4 linked regions of the Homo sapiens genome follow. The protein of the gene in region 4 interacts with the protein of the main gene of each other region in a pairwise test. Each region holds a gene or a part of one and is shown on either strand. Other genes may lie near its edges. The genes, in order: BPIFA1, CCN3, ARMC5 and COL8A1.

Region 1 (6,954 bases), on a different chromosome or scaffold from region 4:
TATATTTTACAGATGGAGAAACCAAGCACAGAGAGACAGGGTGTCCTGTCCCAGGTCATCCAACAAGTACATTTGAAAATCAAAGTCAAGAAGTCTGTCTGTCTCCAAGTCAGGGAGTGAGACCCTGGGTGGGTAGGATTTTGGAAATGGCTTTGATCCAGTCCTATCCAGGAACCAGGCTCTGCCGGCTCACTGGCATCAAGCTTCCATTCTTGCTTTTTGCTTTGCGAGCTCTTGGGTGTCTCATGGGAAACTCCACGTTAGACCTTTCCATGGACATCACACTGTTTTTCATCACATTGATATCATCAAGGTGGGCAGGTTATACTCTCGCTAACATCAAAGGCCGTCTGTGTTCTAAGGGATTTCACAGGTGCAGAGAACAAAATGACCACAGTGTAGTGGGAAGAGCCTTGGCTTTGGAGTTAGGATAGTAGAGTGAGAGCCTTACTCACTTGGCATCACTCTAGCAGCGTGAACACAGGCACCTCTGTGCTTTGGTTTTCCCATTTGCAAACTGGAGATTATTAAATCGACCTCAAAGGGTTGTGGTGAGGATTATAGATGATGCTGGGGCCTCAGGACATGCCTAGAACTGAGGGCATTGCTGGTTTGGGGAGGACGGGTGTCCCTGCCAAACTGGAGATGGGTCTCAGAACTGAGTCCTGGCTCCATCTTCAGGCCGCTCCCTCGCTGCTTCAGGGTCGCTGCTTCAGGGTCACTGCCTGGGGCTGGCAGATCTTCACCTGGGGTTCCCTGGTGGAGATCAAAGCTCTATTTTAGGACAACTCACTCAATGATGTTGTTCAGGCCAGGAATCACTGACGTCACTTTTCCAAGCAGTCCCCCAAGGAGGCCACCAGAAGTACCTCCTCCAGGCTTCAGGATGTCCAGGAGCGGAAGGTTTTCCAGAATGCCCAACAGGCCCCCAGACAGCAGGCCATTGCTGAGGGCTGGAAATGGGTGTAAGGGTCTCTGGGGGTCAGATCTGACAATTCCAGATCCTCAGGCCCCCTCCCCCATCCAGCCCTGTCCCTCCCCACTTTGCAGGGTTGGACACACACACACACACACACACACACACACACACACACACACACACACACACATGCACACATACACCCCTGAAAACTCACCATTTGTCAAGCTTCCTGCAAGACCTGTGGGACTCAAGGGCAGGGCTGGATTCACATTCAAGGGCAGGGTCTGGTCCAGGGGCACGGGCAGGCCTCCAAACTGGGCCATGGTCTGGGCTAACAGCCCGTAGAAGACAATGAGGCCCCCAGTTTGAAACATCTTTGCTCTTAGTATCTGTGGCCAGAATGACAAGTCCAACATGGCATGGGTATCAGAGAGGAATTTATCCACCACCTGCCCTGACACCTGGGGGGTGGGGTTGTTTGCTCCCCAGAACACCAGGGGGTCACTAGTAATAGCTAATACTGCTGAACAATTTCTCTTTGCCAGGCAACAGGCTGACCACTTTACACAATTTCATCTTCATCACAACCCTAAGACATGGGCACCTGTTACCTGCATTGCACAGGTGAGGACCACTGATCAGGGGCCTAAAAAGGAGACAGCCCCACTCCACCACATTCCAAAGAAGAGGGTTTTTTTCCTTCTTGCCAAGAATCCCAGCCTCACCTCACTCCATCTTGCCCACAGTTCACTTGTCTGATTTTCCAGTAGGAGAAACCAAGGCTCACAGAGGTCAAGTGAGTTTGCAGTTGGGAGTTTCAAATATACTCCCATCCCTTCTTGAAACCCACTTGTGTACTACCGAGTGTGGGTAACTTTCCCCAAGGTCACAAGTACACGGTGGACAGAGGATTAGAAGCTAGAGCCAGGTGAACCCTCGGTTAAATTAAGTAACCATCAGATTTATTCTCCAATCGGGCTTGCTTCAATGGTTTGAATCATTGCTGCTCTTCAGACAAAGCAAATGAGAAGGGTTAAACGTGCAAGTGCTGAAGAATTGAACTGTTTTAGATCATCCCTGTTCAGTCCTTTGGCCTGAGCTCAGGCCATGATGGTTGGTGGATGCCCTTGAAAGTCACACAATACAGGGGTCGCATGGCCACAGCCACCATCTCATGTAGACCTTTGTTGGGGAATTCCTGGGGCCATCAAAGTCTTCATTGCATGAGAAGAACCAGGAGACCAAAGAGGGGTAGTGACTTTCCCAAGGTCATACAATAAATTGATGGCAGAGCTGTGGTTGAAGGCAGGTCTCCCAACCCTCCCCTCACCCAACACACAAACATGCATTCTATCATTTTGACACCTTTCTCTTCTCCTTCAAGCTGCCCTGGATGGAATTCCGGTCAACCCCTGAGGTTTGGCTTGCAGACCTCTCACAGGTCTATTTGGCAGCCAGCAGAGTTGTCCAGAGCCAGCACTAGTACCTACAATTTGGAGACAACTGGTGACTTTGTGCAAAATTCCATCTATTGGCTGACTCAGCTAAAGCTCCATCCTTGTGGTGGAAGGCTGGAAATGAAAGGTCTTTGGTCCAAAGAGCCAGTTGTGCCCTTCTTAGGGAGGTAACTTTGACCACAGCCTCTGAATCTCTTTTGGGCAACAGACCCTTTATGAATCCAATGGAAGCTAAAGATCCTAGTCTCAGAAAAAATGCATCAAAATGTATAAAATTGGGTGAAGAATTTTAGGAGGTTTTTGGATCATCTGTATCCACATTGGTAACCTCAAGCTAAAACTTATGCCTTAGAGGCTTTCATTTACGGCATTAATAGTGCCCATTTCTATATCAATGTTACTGGTCTCTTAGGACAGCAGAGCAAATGGCCATCCCCACATCCCTGACATTGGCCAGGTCTGTTTCTCTTGCACAGCCCCCAGTGAGTGATCAAGATCACTCACTGCCCCACAGGGCAGGAGCCTGAGATCCCTGCCGTTAAGGGTAGCAGAGGGGCCACAGAATGGATGGCTCTTACCTGGACTTCTTAGAGGTCTCAGCAGCTGTCCTGGTCTCCTCTCTCTCCCCCACTCACTTCTGCCGAGGAGTCAGCCTCTTTTATAGTATGGGGACGAGGAAGCATGTGTTGGGTGATGGGTTTCTAGATAATTGAGAATTCTGCAATCTGACAGTGTCTTTCAGGGCTCTCCAAAGTAAATAATTGCCAATCACATTAGCAGGTGAGACAGTTAAGCTATTTGGTCAACAAGATAAACAGAGAAAAACCTGAGATGGGATGTTACTCAAGACTTTATGGTTTCCTGAGCGGAGCCAAGGTTGGGGACCCACGCTCCCAAGGTAGCTTGGAGCATTGAAAGGAGCAGCCAGACAGAGCCCAGGAAGGGACCTCAGTCTCATCTCTTGGCCCCTTTCCTCTCCTGCTCTAATTTTTTTGCTCCAGTTGGAGGATTCTTTCTCCTAAAATGTCAAAAGAGTCACACTGCATCCTACATCTGGGGTGCGTCTCCATTCCAGGGCAAGGGTCTCCTGTTTTCAGAGCCCCTATTGCACGTCAGGAGCTCTCTGTCCTCACAAGAACCCTGAGAGGGAGAGGTGACTCCTCCTCTTTTATAGAGGAGGAAACTGAGATCCAGTGGGGACAAGTGCTGAAAGACCCAGAGAGGATGCAGCAGAGTTAGAATGCAACTGACTGGAGAATGAAAACAACAAAAACAACGCCAACAGCAGACACTGGCCGAGCTCCTGCTGTATGCCTGGCCTGCCATGGTGTTCACAGGCAGCATCTCACAAAATCCTCACAACCCTGTACTCCTATTCTATAAGGGGGAAACTGAGGCTGAGTGTGAGGCAAGTTGTCCAGAGATGCAGTGCTTGCCTGGGGTGAGACATCCACATTCAGGTCCTTTCCCCGAATCACTGCACTGAGAGATGAAGGTGCCTCCCAACACTTGCTGGCCATTTTGATTTCCCCACCTGTGAACTTTACACTTTCATGCGTCCCTTTTTATTTTTTAAATTTTCACTTAATTTTTATTTTATTTTATTTTTTGAGACAGTCTTACTCTGTCGCCCAGGCTAGAGTGCAGTGGTGTGATCTCAGCTCATGACAACCTCCACCTCCCGGGTTCAAGTGATTCTCCTGCCTCAGCCTCCTGAGCAGCTGGGACTACAGGCGAGCGCCACCATGCCTGGCAAAGTTTTTGTATTTTTAGTAGAGATGGGGTTTCACCATGTTGGCCAGGCTGTCCTCGAACTCCTGACCTCAGGTGATCCACCTATCTCAGCCTCCCAAAGTGCTGGGATTACAGGCGTGAGCCACAGTGCCCCGCCGCTTCTCTTTTAGGTCCTGGAAAAGTCTTTCCAGGTTCCCAGGCCTGAGGGATCCTTTGGCATCCTGGTCTCTATCCTACCCTTTCTTCTACCTTTCCCTAAATGGAGTAATCAGGCATTTATTTATCCCCACCACTGGGGCCCTTGGAGTCTGTTCAGCAGATGAAAAAGTGAAGACACAGGAAGGCCAAGGTCCTGGACCAGTGAGCGCAGCTCTTACCCTGCAAAACCTAACACCTTATAAGCAAAAGTGGAGAGAGAAGGAATAAATGTGCTTTTATTAAGCACTGACTGCATGCCAGGTGCTCTCCATATTTGAACCTCATCTTCTTCAGGAGTGGTTGGTATTGTTGTCTCTCATACATTGGATGAGGAGGCTGAGGATCAGAAAGGGTGACTGCTTCCTGGGGACACACAGCGAGTGAGTGTTGGAGTCAATTGACCCTGCCACCCTCTGTGTCTGTCTGAGTCCCTGCTAATCAGTGGGCCACACTGCCTCCCTCACACTAGGCCTTCACTGGCCTGCTCCACTGCTCTCCAGAGTCTGGGTGGTGCCCCCAAGGGTTTGGGGCCATGGCTTTGAACTTAATTATCCATTCAAGGTACTTGCTGGACTCTGCCCACATCTTGTACATGGCAATCATCCTCACAGTGGTCCCATCGTATAACTCTTGTGGGTTGGGTCAGGTTGCTACTATCCTTGTGGGGAAACTGAGGCAGATAAGGCAAGGAATTAGTAGAGTTTGTGCAGCCAGTTAATGAAAGCTTACACCCTCTGGTTTGAGGCCGGGAGGCTGTGTCTGTATTGCAGCAGAAAGTGGGTGAATTTGGGCTCAAACAGCCCTGGTTCAAATCCTACGACCCTGGGCAAGTCAGTCCAGTTCCCTGAACTTCATTCAGTTTCCTCACCTGTAAAATGGGGAGCATAAAATCTGCCTCACAGGGCTATGGGGAGATGATGTCTGGGGAGCTGGTATGAATCACAGTTCATAAACTCAGGCGTCCACACATCTTTCTGATTTATCTATACTTTACCATTTCAAATGCCATTTTGCTCAGGAACAGAAATGTCCCAATTTCCCCCTGGGGTTTCATGTCTGTGCTAGGGGCTTTGTTTGTACCAAGGAGGCTGCCTGTCCCTATTTTTGGCTGGCAATATAGGAGACAGCCATGTGCCATCTGCCCCTAGATTGCAGAGACACTGTACTTCCCTCCTGGTGAAAGGTCCCTTTGGATTTAGCATTTACTTTCAACTCGTTTGTAAGACACAGAATTGTTCTGCTGTTCGCCAGTTCCTTGGGCCTGATACAGGACTGTGAGGGGCTGCCCAAGCCCTCCTGCCTGGATCCACCTAGACCCTCCCTTTACCCTTCTCTCCCTGGGGTCTCATGCCCTCTTCTGGCTCTGGGAGGGAGTGTGGACACAGACGCCCTCTGTCCCTGGATCCCATACATGTGCCTGGGATTCTGTTCCCTTCATCCCATGCTCAGGTCTGCCTGGGAGCAGCAAGGGACGGAGGCACCATCAGAACCCACCAGAACTATGCTCCTTCCAGTTCTCCTGGACCCTCACACTTCACCAACCCAACATAGGGCATTTTCTAGTTTTGTGGGCAGGAAGATTTGCTTCAACTTCATTGTGTGTATGCTGTTCTCAGACTCTCCTATGCCCTGAGTTTAACAAGTCAAAAGCCAAGACTATAAAAACAAAAAAACTTACAGTAAAATTGACTTCTTTTAGTGGTATGGTCCTTTGAGTCTTACCACATGTATAGTCAGCCACCATCATAATCAGGGTAAAGAACAGTTCCATCCCCCCAAAGGCACTCTCATGGGTCCCTTTACAGCCACACCCTGCCTTCATCTGCTGGCAACCACCTGTTTGTTCTCTGTCACTACCACTTTATCAAAAACCCAGGCTCTTGAAAGTCAAGAGCCTTGTTTCTGCTTCTGTTGAAACTGCCCTTCCTTGTGGCCACAGGGACTGCATGCTCCCTGCCCTGAACAGGGGAAAGGTCTCAGGGCACCAGGAAACAAGTGGAAGGACACACCACGAACATTTCAAGAGGTTTTCCCCACTCTGGTGATGTCAATACCCTCTCCATGTGTTTCTCAGAAACTGTAGGTGGTGCCTTTCCTTCCTGCTTCTCAGGTTGCAATTGTGTTTGGGAGCCTTTGCTCAGGTTGTTTTGTCAATCAAGAGATCCATTTCTGGCCGGGTGTGGTGGCTCACATCTGTAATCTCAGCACTTTGGGAGGCCCAGGCAGGTGGATCATTTGAGGTCGGGAGTTCAAGACCAGCCTGGCCAACATGGTGAAATCCCATCTCTACTAAAAATACAAAAATTAGCTGGGCATTAGTGGTGCGCACCTGTAAACCCAGCTACTTGGTAGGCTGAGGCAGGAGAACTGCTTGAGCCTGGGAGGCGGAGGTTGCAGTGAGCCAAGATCATGCCGCTGCATTCCAGTCTGGGTGACAGAGTGAGGCTCTGTCTCAAAAAAAAAAAAAAAAAAAAGATCCATTTCTAAAGGGCAGAATTGGTTTGATTTTTCAAAGGGCTCTGACCTATGCAAGGTCTGTTCTCCAGAATGTGAGAATGGGATGCAGGATCTCCTCCCCAGGAGAAAGGTCAGCGTGGGGACTGAGTTGCAGAGGGTCTTCAGATGGCCTTGGAAGCTCCAGAG
Region 2 (7,629 bases), on a different chromosome or scaffold from region 4:
AACTCCCCGCTATAGCTGCTCTCTCCGTCACAGAGTGACACAGTGACTTTCTGAAGCCCAGGCTCCAAGGACACAAGGCCATTACCTTCAGGATGGGAGGTTTCCTCCAGGCTCCTACCTTATCTGTTGGCTGCTCTGGCTCTTGTTCACAGGGCCGCACCATGCAGAGCCGAGTCTGTTTCAGCATCTCACATTGACGGTTCCTATTGGTGACCCGGGTGGAGAACCCCATACCACAGCTCTTGGAGCATGCTGTCCACTCTGTGGTCTGTTCAATGCAGTTGACACTTGAGTCAGAGACTTCTACTCCTAGGGTGGCTTCTGGCCTGTAAGCTATGGGATGTATAAATAAAGACAGCCATATTAGGTACAATGTGAGGATTGGAAAGTGGTCCTTTTCAGCCATTATTAGAAACTGGGTCTCATTCGACTCTGTACCTACTAAACACCCATGCTCCCAGGACACAGAACTGAATTTATTTATCTATTTATTTATTTCTGGCATGGCTGATAATGTCTGCCCTCAGAAATAGTATACAATTCCGGATACTGCTAATATAAGTAATCTGGCTAATTAATGGCTTCTAAAATAATCCTCTATTGTCTCTTGAGATTTTTTATTTAAACTATTTCATTGATAAGAGAAAACAAAAATAAGAATAAAAAAAGGTCCTGAAGTGCCATCTGAGCCTTACTACAGCATCTAGAAAGATGACACTTTTCAGTGACACCTGTGCAGGGATGAGTAGCCTTCTTTAAGGAGGTTAATCATGAGACGGCCTAGGTAGTGTACAGAATCCAGAAAAGAAAGAGAATTTAAAATTTTGTCTTTGTAGTGCTAATGAGGGTCAAGTGGGATGGATTAAAATACAAGTAGTAGTCATCCAATAAGACAAAAATAAGACAAAAGAGTGAATTTGGGAGGTCCTCTTCAGGAGAAATTGCAGCAACCTTCTATAACTTAGTTTGAGTTTATAAATATGTTTGATCTAATGTCTACAAATGTGTTTGATCTCAGTGGGCAACCTGAAACCCACAACTGAATGACCAGAAACTGAGGCCAGTTTCTCTTTTCAAATCCAAGAGATTGCAAATTCTTCATGTTTGTATTTACCCTCTACTATGACCAGCCCTAGGTATATTGAGTTTCTCACCTGCAAGGGTAAGGCCTCCCAGTGAATCCTCCTCATCTGGGCCACAGATCCACTTTTCACAGCACTCTCCAGGCACCTCAACTTTTCTTGGAGCTGGGCAGTTAGGCTCAGGCAGTAGCACATCCAGCTGACAGCGGGGCACACAGCCAATCTGCCCATCTCTGCAGGTGCACTGGAATTTGCAGCTTGGCTGAAATTTCTCTCCACTGCGGTAGATGACCCCATCGAACACACAGTTATCTCCCTCTACCGCTAGAATATTGGGGAAGCAAAGTGAAAAGCAAAGAGGAAGAGGAAAAACAAGAACACAATACAGTGAAGAAGCTATGTAAGATTTGGAGGGCATGTTCCAAAACCCAAGTCCTTTTCTAGTTCAGGCGATCTGGTTTCTCATGTATCTACTGTAGAGTGATGTCCTCATGGAGGCCTCTCAGAGCAAGAAGAAACCTTCAAGATCATCTAGTCTTGCCACTCATTTTATGGATGAGGAAAGAGGTGTGCAACTGTGAAGTGATGTCCCCAAGGTCCCCTGGCCATTTTTCCCAATGTTCAGTCATTTTGCGAGAACCTCCTTAGAGTTTCCTACTCCAGCAGCTTAGACTTAAAAAGAGAAAAAGTGTACTTTATGTTTTCCAACAGGTTAGCTGATCAAATTGGGAAGGGCATTAAGATTCCTTGACACTCAAGCATAATAAAATCATCAGTAGCTTAGAGAAAAAAGTAAAAGCCCTCCTGTCCAGAAAGGAAGGGACAATCTTCAACTACAATGTTGTATCATGTGAAAAATTGATCCCCGACTGATTACGTTTTAGAAGCCTGGATTGGCTAGTTGCCTGCATTTTATTTTACTTGCAGCCAGAAAAGGGTTACATAGTTATCCCAGGAGACTAGCAGCTGCTTTGGTTCAAATGGGACAATTACAGGTGTGAAAACAAACCTGCTGGGTTTTCCCCAACTGCAGTTTGGGAAACTGTGAGCGTGTGAGTAAACCCGAGCTTCCATCAGCCCCAAGTGGCCCCCTAGAAGTGTCCGAAGGAAATGACTTCACTGGCCCTTAACTCTGCGTGGCTCCCCCTTTGCTTAGATTCTTGTCTAGGAAGCCAAGTGAGGAATGCCTTTCACCCCCAGGGCAGGTTTCCTTTCTGGCTCTGGCGCTCCCCAAAGCCCCAAGTGCTCCCCAAACCATGCCTGACACACAGTAAGTGCTCTATACATGTCATTTATTGCATTATTATTATTTGCTTATCGCCCTCTGGGAAGGGGAATACAAAAGAGAAGGGAGGAAGCAGCTTCACTTAGCTGCAGGAGAAGAGGTCAAACAGCAGAGGGAGCAGGATTACCCGTGCAGATGCCAGTCTGGTTGCTGGGGTCCGCGCTGCGATCACAGTAGAGGCCACTGCTCTCGTCGCATGGCTCCAGATCTGAGCAGCTCTCGCCACGCTGGCGGGCACACACCAGACAGCATGAGCAGCCGTCCAGCACCGCGCGCACCCCGGGGGCGCAGGTCGGCGGCGTCGCAGGGCACCGGCCCGGGCACTGGGGAGGGCAGCGCTGAGTCGCAGCGACCTGAAGGCAGGCGAGACAAGGAGAAACCACTCAGCTGGGACAGAAGACGCAGTGAGCCCGGTGACCAAATGGGGGCCACCAAGGCGGGCAAAGTAACTTGGGGGCATCTTAAGGGTGTGCCACTTACCTGTCCCAGGAGATGGAGAAGCAGGAAGGTCAGGCAAAGGCACTGCTTTCGGAGACAAAAGCTCGTGCTCTGCACACTCTGCATGCTCAGGCTTTCCCCTCTCGCTTTTACCAAACGAGACTTTCTTCGCTGTAGATTGGCACTGCTCGCCTTCCCCCTGGTCCGGTGCTTGCCGATCACGCCCAGCACAGGTTTTATAGCGCGCTCCTGGGACGCGCACAAGCCGGTTGGCTGCAGTGCAGGGAGGAGGGGGGAGATCGGCTGGGTGGGGAAGTGGAACGAACCCCGGGGTTGCCATGGCAATTGGCTGTGGGTGCTGCTCTCCTTAGGGCGCGGCGCCGGGGCCTGCGTGTGCCTGTGTGTGGCGACTGGCTTTTCCCAGAGGGTGGGGAGGGGCTGGGTGGAGTTCCGAGGCCAGGACCCAGGGCTCGCTCGAGCGCGTGGGAAGGAAACGCCCGTTTCCTCCTGGAAGTTGCTTCGCCTTCTCCCAGGACGAAGACACCACCACTCCCCACCATCCTCCTCCACCCTGACCGTTCCAACCAGGGCTGCAAGCGTGGGGTCCCCTTACGGGATGCCTGCAGTTTGGGGCCATCTGCAGGGGATTGGCAGAAGGCCCAGGGGTTTAGTCATGAGGGAAGCACATGCAAGTTTGTCACCGTTTAGGGCACTCATTGAATGTGTTGAGAGGGAGGGGAGAGAAGCAAGGGAGGAAAGGAGAGAAAGAGGAGAAAGAGAAAAGTGTGTGTGTGTTGGGGGGAGGGGAGTGGCAGGGGGAAGGGAATCTAGAAAAAAAATCGATATGTCAGGAGGTGGGGAATGCTATTGGCCAAATGGCAAAATTCTTTTGACTCTAATCCTTCTAGCTTCACTCAGTCTTAAACCCCAAGGTCCACAGGTTTGTTAGAAATAAAAGTAAAACACACACACACACACACACACACACACACACACACACACATAAAGAAAACATCATAAAATAAAACAAAGAAATCTTGGCAGAAGAAAGCCTTGAAGCACCTGCTGTAGCAGACCAAATGTGAGACGGCACACCTGAGAGTCCAGAAACCTTTGACAGTTTTCTAAGTGGGTTCAGTTCAACCACCATCACCACCATCAAAACCTCCAGCCAGGGAAGAAATGAGGAAGAAACTGGCTTAACTTGGCTGACCCTTCAGCAAATCAAATCCTTCTCTCACCGGGCATCCGCTTTCAAGAAATGATTGCTGGGGCATGCTTGTCATCTCTCATGGGAAAAAGGGAGCAGTTTTACTGCTCCAAAGGTGACATTGTTTGAAGGATTTAGAACAGTTTCCCCCCACACTTCAACACTGGTGCTGCCCCTAGGAGAACTATGCCCAGCTCTTTTGAGGATAGTTGCTTTGGAAAAAAACAAAAAACACTTTTTAAGGAAAATTATACAGGCCTGTGATGTAATTCTAGAGTTTAAAAAGAAACAAATGGCCTCTACCTCATCTGTCCCCAGCATGAAGGAAATCAAAGGCAGCTTGCGGAAGGGGCCAGGTCTGCCTCTGCAACACCCGCAGATGATGAGGTCACCTCAAGCCCCTTCTAGATAATTCTCTCGGCAGCCTGAAACCACTATGACACACTTCCAAGCCTCTAATAGTTCTGCTTTCTTTGAGGTAAATGAGACTGAGTAGTACTCAAACTTAACTAGAGATGAAACAGTTCATTTGCACTCTTGAGTAGGACATTTACCTACTCTTCAAATTGATAGGCTTTGGAGGGTGGAGGGTGGGAGCAGGGAGAAGATCGGGAAAAATAACTAATGGGTACCAGGCTTAATACCTGGGCGATGAAATAATCTGCACAACAAATGTCCATGACACACATTTACCTGTGTAAACAAACCTGCACATTTACCCCTGAACTTGAAATAAAAGTTTAAGAAAAAGATAAAACAAAAAACAAAAAAACTGATAGGTTTTGTAAGCCATTTGGCCTAATGATGCCTCCATCTGGCTGCAGATCGAATCAACCAGCATGTATTTTGTTAAAAATACAGATTCCTGAGCCCCACTCTTGACCCACTCAGTAGGATTCTCTGGTGGTGGCTCTTGGTAGACAGCATTTTAATGTACTTTGAAATGGAGCAACTAGAAGCACTGCTAATGGGGAGGCAAAGAGCATCGGCCAAGTGTTCCAAGCATGAATAGACTCAGATAGAACAAGGAGAAATTGGCAACATGGAGATTGGGCTAGCTCTTCTTGGAAAGAGTGGGGTGGGAGTGGTGACAGGGAAAATGTAACTTTAAGACAAGGATTAACATGTCAAGAAGTCACTGCAAGTGTAAAATTGCTATTCAGTTTTGATTGCAAGAGATGGAAACCAAACTTGAACTAGTTTTTGCGAAAAGAGGACTTTACTGGAAGGATGCTGTGATGTTTCACATAGTGACAGCACAGGAATGGTACAGGGAGTCCTCAGAGGCAATTGGGATCTAGAGAGAGGAGGGCCAACAGGATTACTTCCACATAAGGGAAAAATGATCCTTCCAATCTTCTTACTTTATGACCTTATCACCACAGAAGGAATGTCCCTGTCTCTTAGGCCCAACTTTAAAAGTTCCAGGAATTAAATTGGATGGGTTCACCCTGGACTAATCAATGGGGACAAGGAAGGTGAAGTATGGGGATTAGTTAGAACCTCATGGTTGGAATGGAGAGAAAGAGCAGTTCTCTTGGGAAGAAAGGACTGTTCCTTAAAAAGAAAGCAAGCTTGGTGAGCAAAACAATACACATCCACTCCATCATCTGCTATAAATGCTCTAGGATGAGGATCTTCATCTTAAAACAATTGTAAATTGAAAGTGATACCATCTGATGATAATCATGTCATGTCATGCTTCACTGCCTCCAGGACATAGTCTCTGAAATCCTTCATGCCGGGATAGATGTTATCCGCAGTGCAGGCCTGGGATGCCGAGCTTATCTCTTTTATCTCATAACTCACTGGATAATCATTATAGTCACACCATTTAATGATGGGGATATTGTTGGAGAAATGTGTCCTTGGGTGATTTCATTGTTGTGTGAACATCATAGAGTGTAGTTACACAGATGCGGATGGTGTAGCCTACTACACACCTAGGCTGTATGATATAGTCTATTACTCCTAGGCTACAAACGTACAAACAGTACAGAATATACTGCACTGAATACTGTAGGCAACTGTAATACAATGGTAAGTATTTGTGATTTAAACATATCTAAACTTAGAAAAGGTGCAGTAAAAATATGGTATAAAAGATAAAAAATTGTCCACCTGTGTAGGGCACTTACCGTGAATGGAGCTTGCAGTGGGTGTCAGTGAGTCAGTGGTGGGTGAATGTTAAGGCCTTGGACATAACTGCACACTACTATAGCCTTTATAAACACTACACTTAGGCTAAGCTAAATTTATTCAAAAATTTCCTTTTTCAATGATAAATTAACTTTAGCTTACTGTAACTTTTTTACTGTATAAACTTTTAATTTTTTTAACTTTTCGACCCTTTTGTAATAACACCTACCTTAAAACACAGATACATTGTACAGATGTACAAAAATATTTTCTTTATATCCTTATTCTACAGGCTTTTTTTTTTTTTTTTTTTTTTTGAGATGGAGTCCCTCTCTGTCACCAGGCTGGAGTACAGTGGTGCAATCTTGGCTCACTGCAACCTCTGCCTCCCTGGTTCAAGCAATTCTCCTGCCTCAGCCTCCCAAGTAGCTGGGACTATAGGCACACACAACCACGCCCAGCTAATTTTTTGTATTTTTAGTAGAGACAGTGTTTCACCATATTGGCCAGGGTGGTCTCAATCTCTTCACCTCGTGATCCACCTGCCTCGGCCTCCCAAAGTGCTGGGATTACAGGCATGAGCCACTGTGCCTGGCCTCTATAAGCTTTTTTCTAGTTTTAATATTTTTATTTTTTTTTTTTTTGTGAAAAATAACACACAAACATACATATTAGCCTAGGTCTACACAAGGTCAGGATCATCAGTGTCACTGTCTTCCACTCCACATCCTGTCCCACTGGAAGGTTGTCAGGGGTAATAACACACATGGAGCTGTCATCTCCTCAGATAACAATGTCTTCTTCTGAAATACTTTCTGAAGGATCTGCCTGAGACTGTTTTATAGTTAACTTTTTTTTATGAGTAGAAGTATGCTCTAAAATAATGATGAAAAGTATAGTAAATACATAAACCAGTGACATAGTCACTTATTATCATCATCAAACATGGACTATACATAATTATATGTGCTATACTTTTATATGCCTGAAAGTGCAGTAAGTTTGCTTACACTAGCATTACCATAGACACATGAGTGTGCTACAATGTCATGACAGCTACTATGTCACTAGGCTATAGGAATTTTTCAGCTCCATTACAGTCTTATGGGACCACCATTGTACATGCCGTCCGTAGGTGACCAAAATATTGTTATGTAAGATGTGACTGTACTTGTCTGTTTTGGTGACTGCCTCCCTGTCCTGCCTGGGAGTCCTTGAGGACACAGAGCATGTCGTATTTACAGTAACATCCCCAACATCCACCTCAGGGTCAGGCAAGTGGTCAGTTCTTGGACCTTTTGAGATACTGCAAACTCCACTTTAAGTTTTGCCACTTTTCATTGCTCTGCATAAGATGAGATAAGAAACAAACTGGAGGCTGTTTGCTCTTCAGCAGCAGCTAAATTGGTCCTATCAGCCACCACCCATCAGCCTGTGACATGAAACTTCTCTGGGTCTTGCTTGGCACTAAAAGG
Region 3 (7,612 bases), on a different chromosome or scaffold from region 4:
CCACGCCACCAGCATTGCCCAGTGCAGGCCGAATCAGGCCCTGGGCACACAGGTTGGCGAGGATCAGAATGGTTCCCTCGCGTACTGCCCGCTTGGGGTGGGAAGCCAGGCTGACGAGTGGGCCCAATCCCCCACCCAGACTTAGCTGCTCAGCACAGGCCCGGGAGCAGCCTCGGCTGAGTTCCAGGAGGGCACGGACGAGGGCTAAGGTCAGTGCAGCATCTGGGGCAGTGGCCAGGAGCTCGGCCAGCGGACGCACTGCTCCCTGCTGTGCCAAGGCCAGGCGGTGCTGGGGTGAGTCTGCCAGGTTACGGAGGGCACGCACCACGCTCTGTAGGCACTGCGAGTCCTGGCAGGCTGTCAGGCTCTCCACAAGCAGGGGAACAGCACCTGAGGGCAGGAAAGGGGAGCACAGAGGGTGAACAAGGACAGACACTCAAGCCTTTCTTCTGCCCCAAGCCCTAGCAGACCCCAACCTCACAGCCTCTTACCAGCACAGTGGATGTCCCCACAGCTCTCAGGTTCCATGGCTAAGTTCCCCAGGGCACGGGCCGTTCGGTTCTGGATGCTGTCTGTCTTCATGCACTGAAGAATGGTCACTGCAACGACAGTTTGGGCTTGTGAGGGTTCTACCCCTTACTGTCTCTCACATCAATAACCTGGAGAATGTGGCCTGAGAGGGCCTGGAAGGCTTTCAGAAGAGGCTAATGGTCGGCAGGGCACCGTGGCTCAAGCCTGTAATCCTAGCACTTTGGGGGACCAAGGTGGGTGGGTCACTTGAGGTCAGGAGTTCAAGACCAGCCTGGCCAACGGGGCCAAACCCCATCTCTACTAAAAATACAAAAATTATCTGGGCATGGTGGTACACGCCTGTAATCCCAGCTACCCGGGAGGCTGTGGCAGGAGAATTGCTTGAACCCAGGAGGCAGAGGTTGCAGTAAGCTGAGATCGTGTCACTGCACTCCAGCCTGGATGACAGAGCAAGACTCCATCTCAAAAAAATAAAAAGAAAGAGGCTAACACTCGGGCTGGGTCTGGAGGGGTACACAGGAAGGTATTTGCCAGAAGCACGGTGGATGGGGGTGTGAGAAGGCATTTCAGGTTTGGAAGCAGCCTTTCCAAAGGCCCAGAGGTAAGATACAGTGTCTGTGAAAGGCTTCAAATGTCAGGCCAAGGGGTCAGGACTTGAATGTGAAGGCACTGGGGGCCACACAAGGGTTTTATGAAGGGGAGTGACACGATACAATCTGACATCCATAGGGAGAATGCATTATGGGGAAAGAATAGGAAGGGGGGAGTCAAAAGGCTGTCATAATAGTCCAAGCATGAAAAGACAATAGCTTGAACCAACCCAGCTACTGGCATCACACAGCACAGAGATACCAGTCTCTGGGCACACAATGGAAGTAGGAAGAGAGAGAAGCAGATAAATTCAGAAGATATTTAAGATGAAAAATAGTAGCTGAATGATGGGGGTTATTTAATAACCAAAGCTCTTGTCAAACATATATGGTCCAGATACATTTTATGTAAATTTTAAATATATTAATGCTTCCCTTTATCCGAAAAGTTAAGATGTCATCAAAACTAGCATAATTTCGTGGAAGGCAGGTAGTGACATGTAAACTGCTTTCACACATTGCCACTAGGAGGCACCAATTTAGCTGGTAAACAGAAAAGCTTATGTTTTGCTAGGATTTGTTCTTACTGTGCTGGTTTTAATTATTTTTATTTATTTTTTCCTGCTTCCTAAGCGACTACTGATTTGTTTGGTTTTCTAAGATACGAGGTCTTGTTACGTTGCCCAGGCTGGAATGCAGTGGCTATTCACAGGCAGTCATTGTTCACTGCAGCCTCAACCTCCTAGGCTCAAGGGATCCTCCCGCCTCAGCCTCCCAAATAGCTGGAACTACAGGCGCGTACCACTGCACCCAGCTTATGCTAGTTTTTAATAACTTGAAATACGTATCATGCTTAGAATATTTGCATATTCGTGCCATATTTGTACTTCGTTTTCTCCCCACTCTGATTTTTTTAGGTAGCTATTATTGCCCCATTTTACAAGGAATCCTAGCCTCGGAGGGGTTAGGTGACTTTTGCAGATCTCCCTTTCTGAACCACTACACCTTCCAGCTCATCAGTGGGGCTTCAGAACCTTGCACAGGGCCGGACACATAGTTGGGCACTGAATGTCTGCTATGAACATCATAACTGGACGGTAAGAATCATCTGAAAAAATCACCAAATAACTCTTTGGCCTCCGCTAGTCCAGCTTCGAAAGAAGTCCTCAACAACCAATTCCTAGATAATGGCTACAATTATCTGGTCTGGGAGGGCTCTCTCTCATCTATAGAGAGTGCAGTGACGTCACGGGGCACAACAGATTGAGAAACAGGAGCGATGCGCCATCACAAAGCACGTTATTCCGGGATAGGACACAAAGAACTCCAGACTGCCCGGGTCTAGAGAGCAAGGGAGTTGCAAACCTAATCTTTCTAGGAAACGGGGGCGGAGCACTTACCCAAAGGGAGTATGCCTCCGAGTCTGCGCACTTCGGTCCGGCACGCCCCTTCCGTACAGCAATCGGCTAGGATGCTGAGCGCCAAGTCCAGCGTCTTGCGCAGGCGCACTGGCGGCGTAGGACTAGACGACGACACAGCGGAGGGGGCGGGGCCCGACGCGGGGGCGGGGCTAGAAGCTCCCGACGCGGCCGACGAGGGGGCGGAGCCGGGGCCTGCCTGGGACGGGGCGGAACCCGCTGCAGCCGCTCGCCGTAGCAGCGCGAGTAGGGGGCGGAGCCCGCCGCGTGCCCGGAAGCGCTCGATTCCCCCCGCTGCCTTGATGTGGCGCGTGCGGAGGGCTAGGAGCGCGCGGCTCAGGGGTGTCTCGTTGGTCGCTGGGTCCTTTTCCCCACCCAGAGCCTCCCCGGCCGCCGCCGCGAGCTGCGCGAGGCAGAACGAGAGCGAGTCCGTGAGGGTTGGCTTCGCAGCCGCCATCTTGGCTCGGGCCTCAGACTCCGCCCCGCTTCTCGCCGCTGATCCCAGGGAGCGGAACTGGAAGACAGGGAAATCGTCGGGCACCGCCTCGCTGACGCTGTTTAGCGCCACCGCAGTGATGCAAGTCGGAAGTTGTAGTTCTCGACCCCGGAAGTCTGTCCTTGCACACGAGGCGCGGCAGTACCTTAATCGCAGCGCATCCTGGGACGTGCGGGCGGTGCATGAGGGAGATGTGGTCCGCGTCGAGCTTCTCACGCCTACCTCGGGAAGCGCTGGAAACTCTTCCAGGGCCCTCCAGGTGGGCCAGGGCCTCCGAACAGCCCAGAAGTCCGACCACGGAGCCTTCGTGCCGTGCCCCGCCCCCGGCGTGCACTCGGCGGGGACCGCCTTTTCTCCTCTAGGCTCGCTTCGCTGCCCCCCAGCGGTGGTGCGGCCCGGCCTTGGGACGGACTCCGAGAACCCCGAGCCGGGCCGAAAGTGCGGGGTCCTGACCGCGCCGCAGACGGGGAGCCCTCGCTCGGTCAGAGGAAGAAGAGGGTTAAACCTACCGAGAACGTTCGCTGCCGCTTCCTAGAGTGACGGGCTTGTGGAATTTTCCGTTTCCGGAGCTGGACCCCGGTGTCCCGAGTGTCCTCCGCTCTGGACGTGCTCGTGAGCTCAGGAGCTGGCATCTAGGAAACGGGGAGTTCTTCACTCGCAGCGCAGTCGGCCGCGCCAGAAGAGGCGAGGGAGAATCCGGACGGGGCGGGGCGGCGGGGGAGCGGGACATTCGCGTCCCGGGGAGCCCCCAGGTCACCCCTGGATTGCGAGGTGGCTCCGCCTGAGCAGCCCTTCCTGGTGTGGTCGGGGCAGCTGCCCGCCCGGAAAATGGTCAGGCTCTAGCCCTGGGGAGGAAGAAGCCTTTGCCAAGAGCAACCGTCTACAAGCCCCAAAACCTGCGAGTGCCGGAAATGTGGACTGACCACAGCCTGCCTCCCCGGCTTCATTCACCACCAAGGCAGCCCCTCTGGTGACAAGCCTTACCGTTGTCCGGGTTATGGCAGAAGCTTCCGATGTGGCTCTGATCTGGTTAAGCACCACTGGGTACACACCGGTGAAAAGCCGTACTCCTGCCCCGAGTGTGACCATCGCTTCGGCCCTATGCCTGTGCCTAGTGTGGTAAGACTTTCAGCGTCAGCTCCAACCTGATCCAGCACCAGCGCGCTCACACCGCTAAAAGCCTTACCGCTGAGGGGACTGCGGCAAGAGTCTCAGCCTTGGCTCCACCCTGTTGCAGCACCTGCGCTCCACATGGGTGAGAAGGCCTCTAAGTGCCTTGTTTGTAGTAAGAGTTTTGTGCACAGTTGGAATCTGCTGCGGCACCAGCACAGTCACAAAGTCCGGAAACCTGATGCTTGGTGGTGAGTGTGGCCAGACCTTCGGCCACAGCTCCCACCTGCCCATCCACTAGGCGGCCCACAGCAGCACCCCTGCGTCTGCCTGCAGTGTGGCAGGGCCCTAGCGCAAAGCTCCAACCTGGGCCAGCACCAGCGGACGCACTAGGGCGGCAGCCTCTGCAAATAGCCCTGGCTTCAATTTTAGCTGAAACTTCAGCTCTGACTTTGGTTCGGACTTCAAGGAAATGGAAGGAACCAGGATCTCTAAGCAGACCCCCTTCTGCTCCCTTAGGGCTGTTGATTTTAGAGCTAATGATGGGATTCGGTTGGGGCGAGGGGGTCTCCACATCTTTTTGCCCAACCCTTTGCTAAGTCAAGGAACCCCAGTCTGGGCTGGGCATGGTGGCTCATGCCTGTAATCCCAGCACTTTGGGAGGCCAAGGTTAGCGGATCACTGGAGGCCAGGAGTTCGAGACCAGCCTGGCCAACATATTGAAACCCTGTCTCTACTAAAAAAAAAATGCTAGGCGTGTTGGCTCTCGCCTGTAATCCCAGCTACTCGGGAGGCTGAGGCAGGAGACTCACTTGAACCCCGGGAGGCGGAGGCTGCAGTGAGCGAAGATCGTGCCACTGCACTCCAGCCTGGGCGACAGAGAGTGTCTCAAAAAAATAACAAATTTAAAAATTGTTTTTAACAAAGGAGCCCCAGTCTGGAAGAATCAGAACACTAGATCTGTGATCACTGCCTTCAAAGAGCCCAGTCAGCTGAGAGGGCTTAGGTTTGTTCTTTGAAGTTACAAAGACAGAACGTCGACCAGCTGAAGGGAGAGTTTTGGAATGGCGGGAGCTATCCAGCGTGGACCCAGCTGCCTGCAGATCTGGCAGTAGCTGACACAGTCCCTTCACAGGCCTAGGGAGTGATGGGGTTAATCACACCTAGAACAACAGCTACCTCTTCCCAGAGGAATGGGACCAGAAATCAGGCAAGCCCCTGTGAGGAGTTCCATGGCAGCGCGCAGGCGGGGCATTCCTAACCTCCAGAGGGAACCATGAGGGATCCTGTGTTCTGGCAGATGGGCCAGAGAATTTGAACTTGGGACCATTGTGTGAGCCCTGGGTGTGTGAGCCCTTCAAAAGTCCTCTCAGCACGTGAGAACTATCATTATGGATGATGCTAGGGTGGTGGGGGCCCCAGAACAGACCTGTATGTTGAGTTCAGGGGTTGCTTTGTTGCATTTCTGGGCAGGGGCAAGAGGCCCAGGGTTTGTCATCTGCCCCTTCCCCTGCCTTATCCCCTTCCCTTCCAAGTTCCCCAGGCTCCTTTTCTGCCAGTCTGTCAAGAGAGGGAAGAGTGGCGAAGAGTCCTTTGTGCCTGGACATTGGGGACTGAACATGGCCCTTTTGCCTGGGCATTGCCCAAACATATATTTCTACTGGCATAACTTTGTGTATGTGAGAGCCAGGGGTAGGCTTCCCAAAGCACCTGCCTGTGCTCAGAGTAGACACCAAGCTCTGAGGCCCTTCCCTTCCCTGCTGGGGGAGGGAGTTGTCTGTTTCAAGGACCTAATGTCCACCCCTTGTGGGACAGTCCTACCATCAGTCCAGGCATCTGGTCTGCTGCCCCCAAATTTTACCATCTTTTTTTTTTTTTTTTTTTTTTTTTTTTGAGACGGAGTCTCACTCTGTTGCCCAGGCTGGAGTGCAGTGGCACGATCTCAGCTCACTGCAACCTCCGCCTCCTGGGTTAAAGTGATTCTCCTGCCTCAGCCTCCCGAGTAGCTGGGACCACAGGCTTGCGCCACGATGCCAGCCAGTGTTTGTATTTTTAGTAGAGGGTTTCACCAACCCTCTACTAAAGACCAGCCTCTAGTTGGTCAGGCTGGTCTCGAACTCCTGACCTCAAGTGATCCATCCGCCTCAGCCCCCCAAAGTGCTAGGATTACAGGCATGAGCCACCACGCCCGGTAATTTTGCCATCTTTTATCAGGCTTTCTGTGTCGAGGACGCTACCCACATAGAGTAGAACCTAAAGGGAAGGGATGTGAAGTGACCTCACCCTCAGCTTCTAGCTCATGGTGTCAAGGCTTGTGTGATCTTAGACACGTCTGCCTCTTCTGAGCCTGTTTCTTCATCTGTAAAACAGGGATGGGAGGTTGTGGTAAAGATTCCACAGCAACACTGCACACGCATGAAGTACCTGGGCCAGGGATGACTCGGCAGACCTCAGTTTCCCTCTGCCTCCTGCCTAGAGCTGTTAGCAAGCATCCATCATGCGGCTCACACAAGAGCTCCCCCCGGAGGTTACAGAAATGAAGGCAGCAGCCCCAGTCCTTGGGTAGCCTGTTTCCCCTTGAAGGAAACAGACTCAATATCAGCAACACAGAGTGAATGACGCCAGGGTGGCGAACGGGCCTTTCCTGGAGCAAATGCGGGAGGCTTCATGGAGATGACGTGTAATGAACAGCACTCATCTCAGGCTGGGAGCAGCACATGCCCCCGGCAGGGAGTCAGTGATGAGGTATGGGGTTCTTGACATCTTCCTCACCCAGGACCCTTCAGAGAGTACGAGCCAGGGTTTGAGTGAAGGGCCTGAGCCCAGCACATGCATGGTAGGCACTCAAAGAATAATTGTCATGATCAGGTCCTTTTTACACTGCTTACTAGTGGCCTTTAAGCCTCAGTTTCCTCACAGTTGCCTTGAGTGAGTGTCAAGTGTTGTAGACCTCTGCAAAATTCATAACTGCTTAAGAATATTAGGTATGGGTAGAGTAGGCTTGGAAGGAGGATTGGTTTGCAGAATCCCTTTCAGAGACCTGTAATCTAATTTCTCACATTAGGGCTAATACTCCTGGGACCCCTCTCCTCTCCAATTGCATAAAACAGGTTCTGACCAGAACAGCGAGGCAGGCCAGACCTCAGAAGCAGAGGGACGGGCTTAATCTAACAGGAGTTTATCCCATGTCCTGCATCCACTGTACCCTGTGCTGGGTTTAGAAGTAGCTTCACTGTCCAAGCTTGTGACCCAGTGCCCAAGCCCGAGATGGGAAACACATTTGTTTTGGCTGTGTGTGTGTGTGTGTGTGTGTGTGTGTGTGTGTGTGTGTGTTTTCAAACAAGCCAAGATTTTTACTTTTTGAGTTCCATTTTGTTGCCCAGGCTGGTCTCTGAAACTTCCAGGCTCAAGCAATCCCCCTGCCTCAGCCTCCCAAAATGCTGGAATTACAGGTGTGAGCTACCATG
Region 4 (7,613 bases):
CACTTTTCAGGAGACTTAGGGTTGGTTTTGTTGACGTGACCCATCTGTTAGTTAAAAACATGTTTTAAGGAGTTTTTTATTTTAACTCATAGTATAGCTTTTAGAATTATGACTAGCAAATTACTGTGGGTTTTTAAATATGGGGCAAACCTGAAATCATTTTCATCATTAGAACCAAGCTGTTCTTTTCTGCTAAAGAAGGAGGGCTAAGAAGAAGGGCATAGTAGAGATGGATCTTATACTCTCATTGATTAAAAAACAACAAACAAATAAAAAGACAAGAGCAGACATGGATTTTTGCTCTTCCCCATCCCCTCATGTTCACATAAATGAGGGTTGGGAGAAGTTGCGTTTCGTAACAGAGCTCCTAATCTTGCTTTTCTCCTAGGGCACTTCTGTGATTCCTCCAGCTTCTCTTTCAAGTCCCTTTTCACCCCAATCCTCTTCTCCTTGATTTTTATTTCATAAATAGGAATAAAGTGGCATATGTTTTCTGATCATGAAAAGGATATCATTTTATAATTTTGACAGTAGTAGAACATCTAAAATGCACATTTCTGTAGGATCAGCAAGCCCTCAAAATCAGTAGAGCTCCCTTCTTGTGTCTCTAGTGAAAGCGGCAGCTTCTCATCTTATCTTTTCTGAGAAACATTAAGAAGTCCTCCCAAGTCTGCCTCAATGGCATTGGTTGGGTATAGTCATGGACTTGATCAAGAGGCAGCTATATAATGGCAAAAAGAGGAGACTCACGTGAAGTATCCACATCCCATGCAGAAGGGGAGATTTGGGGGCGACTACATGAAACTTCGACACTGATTTTTCTAAAAGCTTAAGAAGAGCAGTGTCATCTTGCTTGGTATGTACCCTATGGAGAAAGGATAGCTTTGCTCCTGGGAAACTTAGATCATGAGCAATCTAAGATGATCTCACTCAGTTATTTAGGGGCTTGAACTTGATGGGACATAGGGAAGGCAGTTACTGTTTAACGGTCCATAGCTGGTCCGGTGGATTAATTGCCAGAGAAAGCAGAAGTAAACCCTTGGAGAATACTTTTATCCCCAAACTTAGGAATAACTGGAAGCTCATTTAAACTGGGAGCATTTCCCCCTCCACCCCAAGAAAAGATAACTTCCCTCAAGGGGATCTGGTGAATGAAGCAGCGTATTTTCATCCTTGTGATAATGGGTGTGAGTCAGGCACTACCATAAAAGAAGAATTAACTTGAATGTGCCACATACTTGGTCTGGCCTTGTCCCATACCTGTACTCTTGTCATGGTTGATTACCTATGTGCATCAGATATAAAGCAAGCAGTCTGCATTGTGGCATGAGATAAAAGGTATGTTAATATGCTCAGGTCACATACTATCTTGGCCAATAGTAATTTTATATAATTTGCTTAAAGGAAACTGCACTTCTTGCAATATTTTTTTCCAATGAAGAAAAATTTAACGTGACAGAAGCTTTATATATAACTCTTGCATTTGAGTAACAGCATTGAATCCTCTCCATCTCAAGCAGAACTTTTAAATATTTTTATTACTTTTGATATGCAAAAGCTAAGGAGAAATGGTTTGGAAGACCTAAGTTAAATTTCTAATGAGTCTTGTTTCTTTAATAGGGGAGAATTTCATACAGCTTCGGTGAGTTTTTTCTTTCCACATGAGATAATATAAACAAACAAAAAAATAAAAAAGTGAAACATTTCTCTTCTTACTTTAAGAACCTTAAGGGCTAAAAGAGTGGTTTGGTTTCCTGACTGGTACTTTTGGTTTGCCTTCTCTAAGTGGTCTTGAGCAATTCCCCAGAGGAAACATTTGAAGAGGGTTTTTCTCCCACTTGAGAGAGTTTCATCCCACACAACCCACAGAATTTGATGGCAAACTTCATGGACCAAGTGTCTGGTTTTACAGAAGTGGCTGTGGAGTATGTTTTTCCTTTCACAGGTGCACATTTATTCTACCTTAGGAATAAGAAGAGATCATTTTCTTTTAAAGAGGGTAGCTTAAACACTGAATATCTCTGATAATTGGATGCCAGTCAGGTAGGTTGTGATTTACTAAATGCGGGGGAAAAAAGGTGGAAAGAAGGATTAAAACTTCCAAAGCCTTTCTCGCTGATCTTTCTTTACAACCATCTGGTGTGCACAGAAGTATTGTATAATCTGGCCTGTATTATTCTCTTACTGTGAAACATATTGAAACACTTTATGTTTAGGTGTGTGTACAGAAATTCATGAAGTTCTTTTATACACTTTCTTAGTTCCATCGTAATTCTCATTTTAGGATGTCGTGAAAAGATAGCCTGGTGAGAGAGCACATTCTACCCTGGCTTGTGAATTTGGATTTGTTCCTTCCTATCTACCAGCCACCTGATTACTTACTGTCCCCGTGCAAAGGGCACCCGTTCACATCATTTTTTTCCAAGCGCTAAAACCTGGAAAGATATTTTTTTAAAGGACTCACAGAAGCTGTCTTGGGGGTTTGGAAAACATCACAAAATTGTTAGCAGACCTTTTGACTGTGCTATTTTTAGGAAGTTAACTGTGTTCTTTTAAAGTACATTTTTGACAATGGGACAACGTTTTCCTTGCCCCCACTGATGTGTGAAATATGTACAGTGAAAAACGTCAGTACAACACCCCAAACAGATACATTTTAACCTAAGCAACAGTCAGCAACAGGAGAAAAAGTGATTTAAAAAGAGAAAGGTTTCGCAATATTTATGCTGCTGTTTCTTCCCTGAAGGAGCTTTTATTTTACCATTCAAACAGAAGTTTGTTTTCAAACCAGTTGCTAGTTAAAGGAGCAGCGGATCGCGCATCCGTAAGAATCAGCTCTAACCAAACAGCAAACGCGTTGGCCAGAGGGTGACTTATTCCCCCATAGCAACCCCTGGTAGGTGAGCTGCCTGCAGAAGTGCTGTCTTACCTTGAGCACGTAAGATCAGGGAGAGAGGCTCGCTGGCTCCCACGGAGAGGATCGGGGAAGGGCTGTGATCCGCTGCTGGTAACATGCACTTGGCTTTTATGGGCAGGTGGGAGGAGCTGCTCCTCATAGTAGGTGGGCAGGGAAGGAGCGGCGGGCGGGCAGCCTCTGGAGGAGCTGGACACTCTTCTCTGGGGAGGGGCGGGCAGAGACTGGAGCCCGCAAGGCGGAGGAGAGACGACGGGGCGGGGGGAGGGGGAGCGCGGTCACAACGGAGGAAGGAGTGGAAAAGGGAGAGAGAGGGAGAAGGGAAAAAAGAGAGGGAACTAGAAATAGTGAAAGGGATCTTGACCACAGATGGGGAAAGGTGGGGGAGAAAATGAATAGCAGAGACAGAGAGAGAGAGAGTGTCTGGGAGGAAAGGGGAATCGGAGTATTTTCCGTTTTTGCATGACATTTTTTGGCAGAGGGAGTTGTGGGTGATTGTGACTTTTGAAGGTGTTTTCTGTGAATTTGGGAATTTGAAAAGCTACATAGCGGTCCGGGAGAACTGAAGGGTTTCTAAGCGAGGCAAGGGAGGTGAAGCTGGGCGTCCGGGCAGCAGAGCCAAAGTTCAGGGTGGACCCGGACCTGGAGCTGGAGGCACTGACATGGCCTGGAGCCAGGCAGCCCCCAGCCCTCAGCCCCGTCCCACCGCCCGCGGGTGAAAATCGCCCCATCCCTCTCCCTCCAGGCAAGGCTTATTTGACAAGGAAGTTCCTGCGCTGCCTGTCCTCTGAGCATCCAGAGGCCCCTTTTGAGACTTCGGCAGCATTAAAGTAAATCCAGCAACGGGGAGGATTCGCGTGGACTTGCTTGTGGAGACAGGAACCTCAGAACCAGCCTGGGTCTTCCAGCATCTGCTTATGTAACGTAGGATTTCAGAGCTCTCTGCCCTCTGGTTATTTTCGGTATTTAAAACACTCTCATTCCTAACAATCGGAAAACGTCTTGGTGCCACAGTTCTTTCTCAGTGTGTCTTAAACATTAAGAGAGGATTCAACCAACAAGTGGCTAAAGGATCAGTCTGAAATTACTAAGAAATGCATTCAGAGAAAGAAAAACAAGCTCCTTTCGCTGCTGAGTGGTGACTCACTTCCTAGCCCAAGCCTGATTTTTGCCACCAAAGGAATTAAAGCATTTTAAAAGAGAACCTGAGACTTGGGGTGGGAGATACAGTACCGGGAGGGGGAAAAGGCGGGAATGGGAGGGGGGAGGGATGGGTAGGCTGGAAATAATAAAGGAACGAACTTGTACTGAATATGTATATATGTACTTCATTCAGTGTTCACCGCAACCTTATGAGGTAGGTATGATTCATATTGTGCAGATTTATTTATTTTTTTTTTAATTTAAAGAAAGGCATCTCTAAGGGTTTAAATAACTAGCTCAAGCTAGCGAGAGGGGGAGCCACAGCTAGCGAGCTTGCAAACCTTAGGCACTCTTCAGTACACCAGGCTGCCGTATAGAACACCTAGGTTCGTCTCAGGTTAGATCCTGATGTCATTGGCTGGTAGCAGGCTCCAAGAGAAGGAAACTTGATGGTGAAGAGCAGAATTACTCAAACTTAGCACTACTGAAACTTTCGGGAGAATATTTCTCTGTTGTAGGGACCTCTCCTGTGCACTGTAGAATGTTAAGCAGTGTCCGTGGCCTCTACCCACCAGATGCCAGTAGCAGTACCCACTCCGCACTCGCCACCCAGCTGTGAAAATAAAAAATGTCTCTAGATTTAGCCAAATGTCGCTGAGGGACAAAATCCCCTCCTCTTCTTAAGAACTATTCGTCTAAAAAAGGCCCACAACTATAAAAAAGCATTTTAAAAGAATCTATTAAGAAAATACCCAGTAGTGCCATTTGGATAATAATAATACCTACGTCCATATGTGCCGAGTTTACACAGCACTTAGGTTTTTACATACGTATTTCCATCTGTTAGCTTCAAGAGCTCAAAGCCTCAATTACTTCCTTTGTAACTAAGCTTATTCTCAATTGGTTACGTCTGGGAGTCAACGAAATAAACTCCCATGTGCCCGGGATATGAGGCAAGAACAATCATATATGAAATAAAAAATTTAAAATTTTTATCGTAAACACAAATTTGACACCAGAGTTTTCAAATTTACTCACGATGTTTTGCATTATTGATTATTCGCCTTTTTATAATTTTTTATCTCTATGTTCCCTATTCAAATTATATTCAATAATTTTTTGGCTGCACAAAGTTATAACTAGTGGCTTACTAGCTAGTAAAAAATAAGTGCTCAATAAATATGTATAGTCTCGCTAATTGAATAAACAGCAATATTGAGGACTGACAATAGAGAATGGTCAGCATTTGTTAGTTTAATGAATGCTTAGAAAGCTAAAACTTTCACATCAACTTTCTGCCCGTTTGCTGTTTGGTTTTACTCTCTTCTTACCCTCCATAACTCAGTTTTCCTCTTCCCAAATAGTATGTCTTTTGAGGATGTGGCCAAATCTACTGAGTGAAGTCTGTCAAACGAGTAACACTTGTTACTAGACCTAGAAATAGGACTGCATTATCTATTCTTGGACATAACGCTGAAATCAGATGTGATTTTACAAGCACAATACCACTTTTGGAACTTTTTAATTTAGCAAAGAAATGTGTTCTGGGGAAACAAAATGGGACTTTTAGAGGAGAAGCTGGGTGATAAAGTATGTTAGTAAATACCCTTATCAGATTACAACAAATCATCTTTTCTATCCTAAGTTAATTCTTCTCAAACATTCCAGTTCCATCACATACGTATGAAAAAAAAAAAATACCAGAAAGGCAAGAAAAGCACATTTGAAGAAAAGACAATTGATGGCTGTAGGCTGAATTTCTCTTCTTATTTTTAATTCTTTCTTCCTTTCAAACCAGCCAACATAACAAAAGCACTGCTTTCATTTTTTTGGATGGCACTAATAATTAGTTCATTTCTCCCATTCACACTTACCTGAATCTGATTCAGTAGCAGATCTGGACAACAAGTCAGGAATCCAGGAATGTCGTCTCTTTGCTGACTCTTAGTGTGCCCTTCCTAGAATCTCTCTGAAGGTGACTGAGGTTTGAAATGACCTAGTTTGGTCTTCTGTGGAAGGAAAGGAATCCAATGACAACATACTAGATGCTCTGAAGTTTCCATTGTGTGGCTATAACAGCTACAGATCATTACCTTACTTTTGAGAGCTTTGCAAATGTAACCCTTTTTTGGAGTTTATTTAGAATTAATCAGTTAACAAATATTTATTAAGAATGGATATCAGACAATGTGAGGTATTCAAAGCAGAGGAAAATATGACATCTTTTCTCACAGAGGAAGAAAAGCATGAAATCCTGATAGTTGAATTTTAGTAAAGAGACTTCAGGGAGGAGGTGGCATTTGAGCTGAGCCATGGAAAGTAGCATTTGAATAGACGAGTGATGGACAGTAGTACATTCCAGGCAAGGGAGGATATGTGTGCAACCAGGGAAATCACAGGAATATTCAGAAGGTGGTGAATTGGCCAGCATGACTGTATAGAAAGGTCCATGTGGTAGAACAATGAGGCTGAGAAATGGAGAGGAGGGATGAGGAGGGATGAGGTCACCTCAGTAGTCTGAAGTATAAACTATATTCTGTAGGCAATGCAGAATCAATGAAGACTTTTGAGCAATAGAATGGCATGGTGAAAGTGGCATATTTTCAAGATTTCATTTTTCTTTGAATATAGGGTCTTTATTGTGGCTTTGCAGATAAATGCTTGCCTGTGCATCTCAGACTGATAGCATACTTAGAAATAGAGAAAACAGAGTGTCTGCATCCTGCAGACTTGGAGGCCTGAGCAAGGTGGCAGAAACAGTAGTGGTTCTAGCCCAGTTTTCCCTGGAGTGTCCTGTATGGTTGTAGGAAGGGGGTAGGAAGGCAGGACCCTCTCACGGTGTGGCCAGGGTGACATATGGGATTCACATAAAGAGTGATGTCTTCTCTGTGTGTCCGAGGAGCCCAGTGTCTTTCTCACCTGCTGTAGCTTTACATTATCCCTAAATAATATACCTGATCCATGAGATCCTTGAGTTTTCAAGGATTTCTGGATTGGAAAACAGTGTGATCTGGCTTTAAAAACTGCACATTCACATCTATGTTCTCAAATAGTTAATTTTTAACTATTTGTTTGTGCTGCCCATGCCAGATTTCAAGCTCTGATTCTTCCTTTCACTCCTTAGAGCTTTAAAATGCAAATGAATGTGGCTTTGGCCTAAGCAAAAGTCACAGACAGGTGTGCTCACTTGAAGTAAATCTGACAATTTGAAATACGGTGTACAGAAATTTGCTCTCCATCTATCAAATGACTCATCAGTCAATCAGTCTTAGCCCATGCTAAGCATGACCAAATATGATCGTAGTCCGTAAGGCACTTAAAATTGCCAGCTCTCCTAGGACATTTAAAATGGGGTTTTATTTACAAAAATGGAAAACGCTTTATAGCACAGAAGAAAGGCACACCTCTTACGCATTCCAAAGGACCGTTGGATTTTGTGAGTCACTGTTTTCCTGTTGGCCCATAGGGTAGAGCTGACTGATGCAGGTGACCCCACAGATGACTGCCTCACAGCTCCTGCTGGCTTTGTAAAGAGCAGTGCATGGAGAGTCAGGAA

Evidence for each region.
Region 1: the proteins of COL8A1 (region 4) and BPIFA1 interact in binary tests that used the Homo sapiens proteins (3 or more experiments, as listed by UniProt).
Region 2: the proteins of COL8A1 (region 4) and CCN3 interact in binary tests that used the Homo sapiens proteins (3 or more experiments, as listed by UniProt).
Region 3: the proteins of COL8A1 (region 4) and ARMC5 interact in binary tests that used the Homo sapiens proteins (3 or more experiments, as listed by UniProt).

What each region holds. Positions count from the first base shown.
Region 1 is NC_000020.11:33,232,054-33,239,007, reverse strand, and holds the start of BPIFA1 (BPI fold-containing family A member 1 precursor), read right to left. Parts: upstream 3,013-6,954; 5' UTR 2,958-3,012; intron 1,312-2,957; 5' UTR 1,297-1,311; coding exon 1,137-1,296; intron 954-1,136; coding exon 794-953; intron 1-793.
Region 2 is NC_000008.11:119,411,835-119,419,463, reverse strand, and holds the start of CCN3 (CCN family member 3 precursor), read right to left. Parts: upstream 3,019-7,629; 5' UTR 2,932-3,018; coding exon 2,848-2,931; intron 2,721-2,847; coding exon 2,495-2,720; intron 1,407-2,494; coding exon 1,155-1,406; intron 334-1,154; coding exon 119-333; intron 1-118. UniProt on the Homo sapiens protein: Immediate-early protein playing a role in various cellular processes including proliferation, adhesion, migration, differentiation and survival. Acts by binding to integrins or membrane receptors such as NOTCH1.
Region 3 is NC_000016.10:31,454,909-31,462,520, reverse strand, and holds the start of ARMC5 (armadillo repeat-containing protein 5), read right to left. Parts: upstream 2,997-7,612; coding exon 2,522-2,996; intron 600-2,521; coding exon 492-599; intron 391-491; coding exon 1-390.
Region 4 is NC_000003.12:99,633,981-99,641,593, reverse strand, and holds the start of COL8A1 (collagen alpha-1(VIII) chain precursor), read right to left. Parts: upstream 3,001-7,613; 5' UTR 2,930-3,000; exon of another isoform or gene 2,914-2,929; intron 1-2,913. UniProt on the Homo sapiens protein: Macromolecular component of the subendothelium. Major component of the Descemet's membrane (basement membrane) of corneal endothelial cells. Also a component of the endothelia of blood vessels.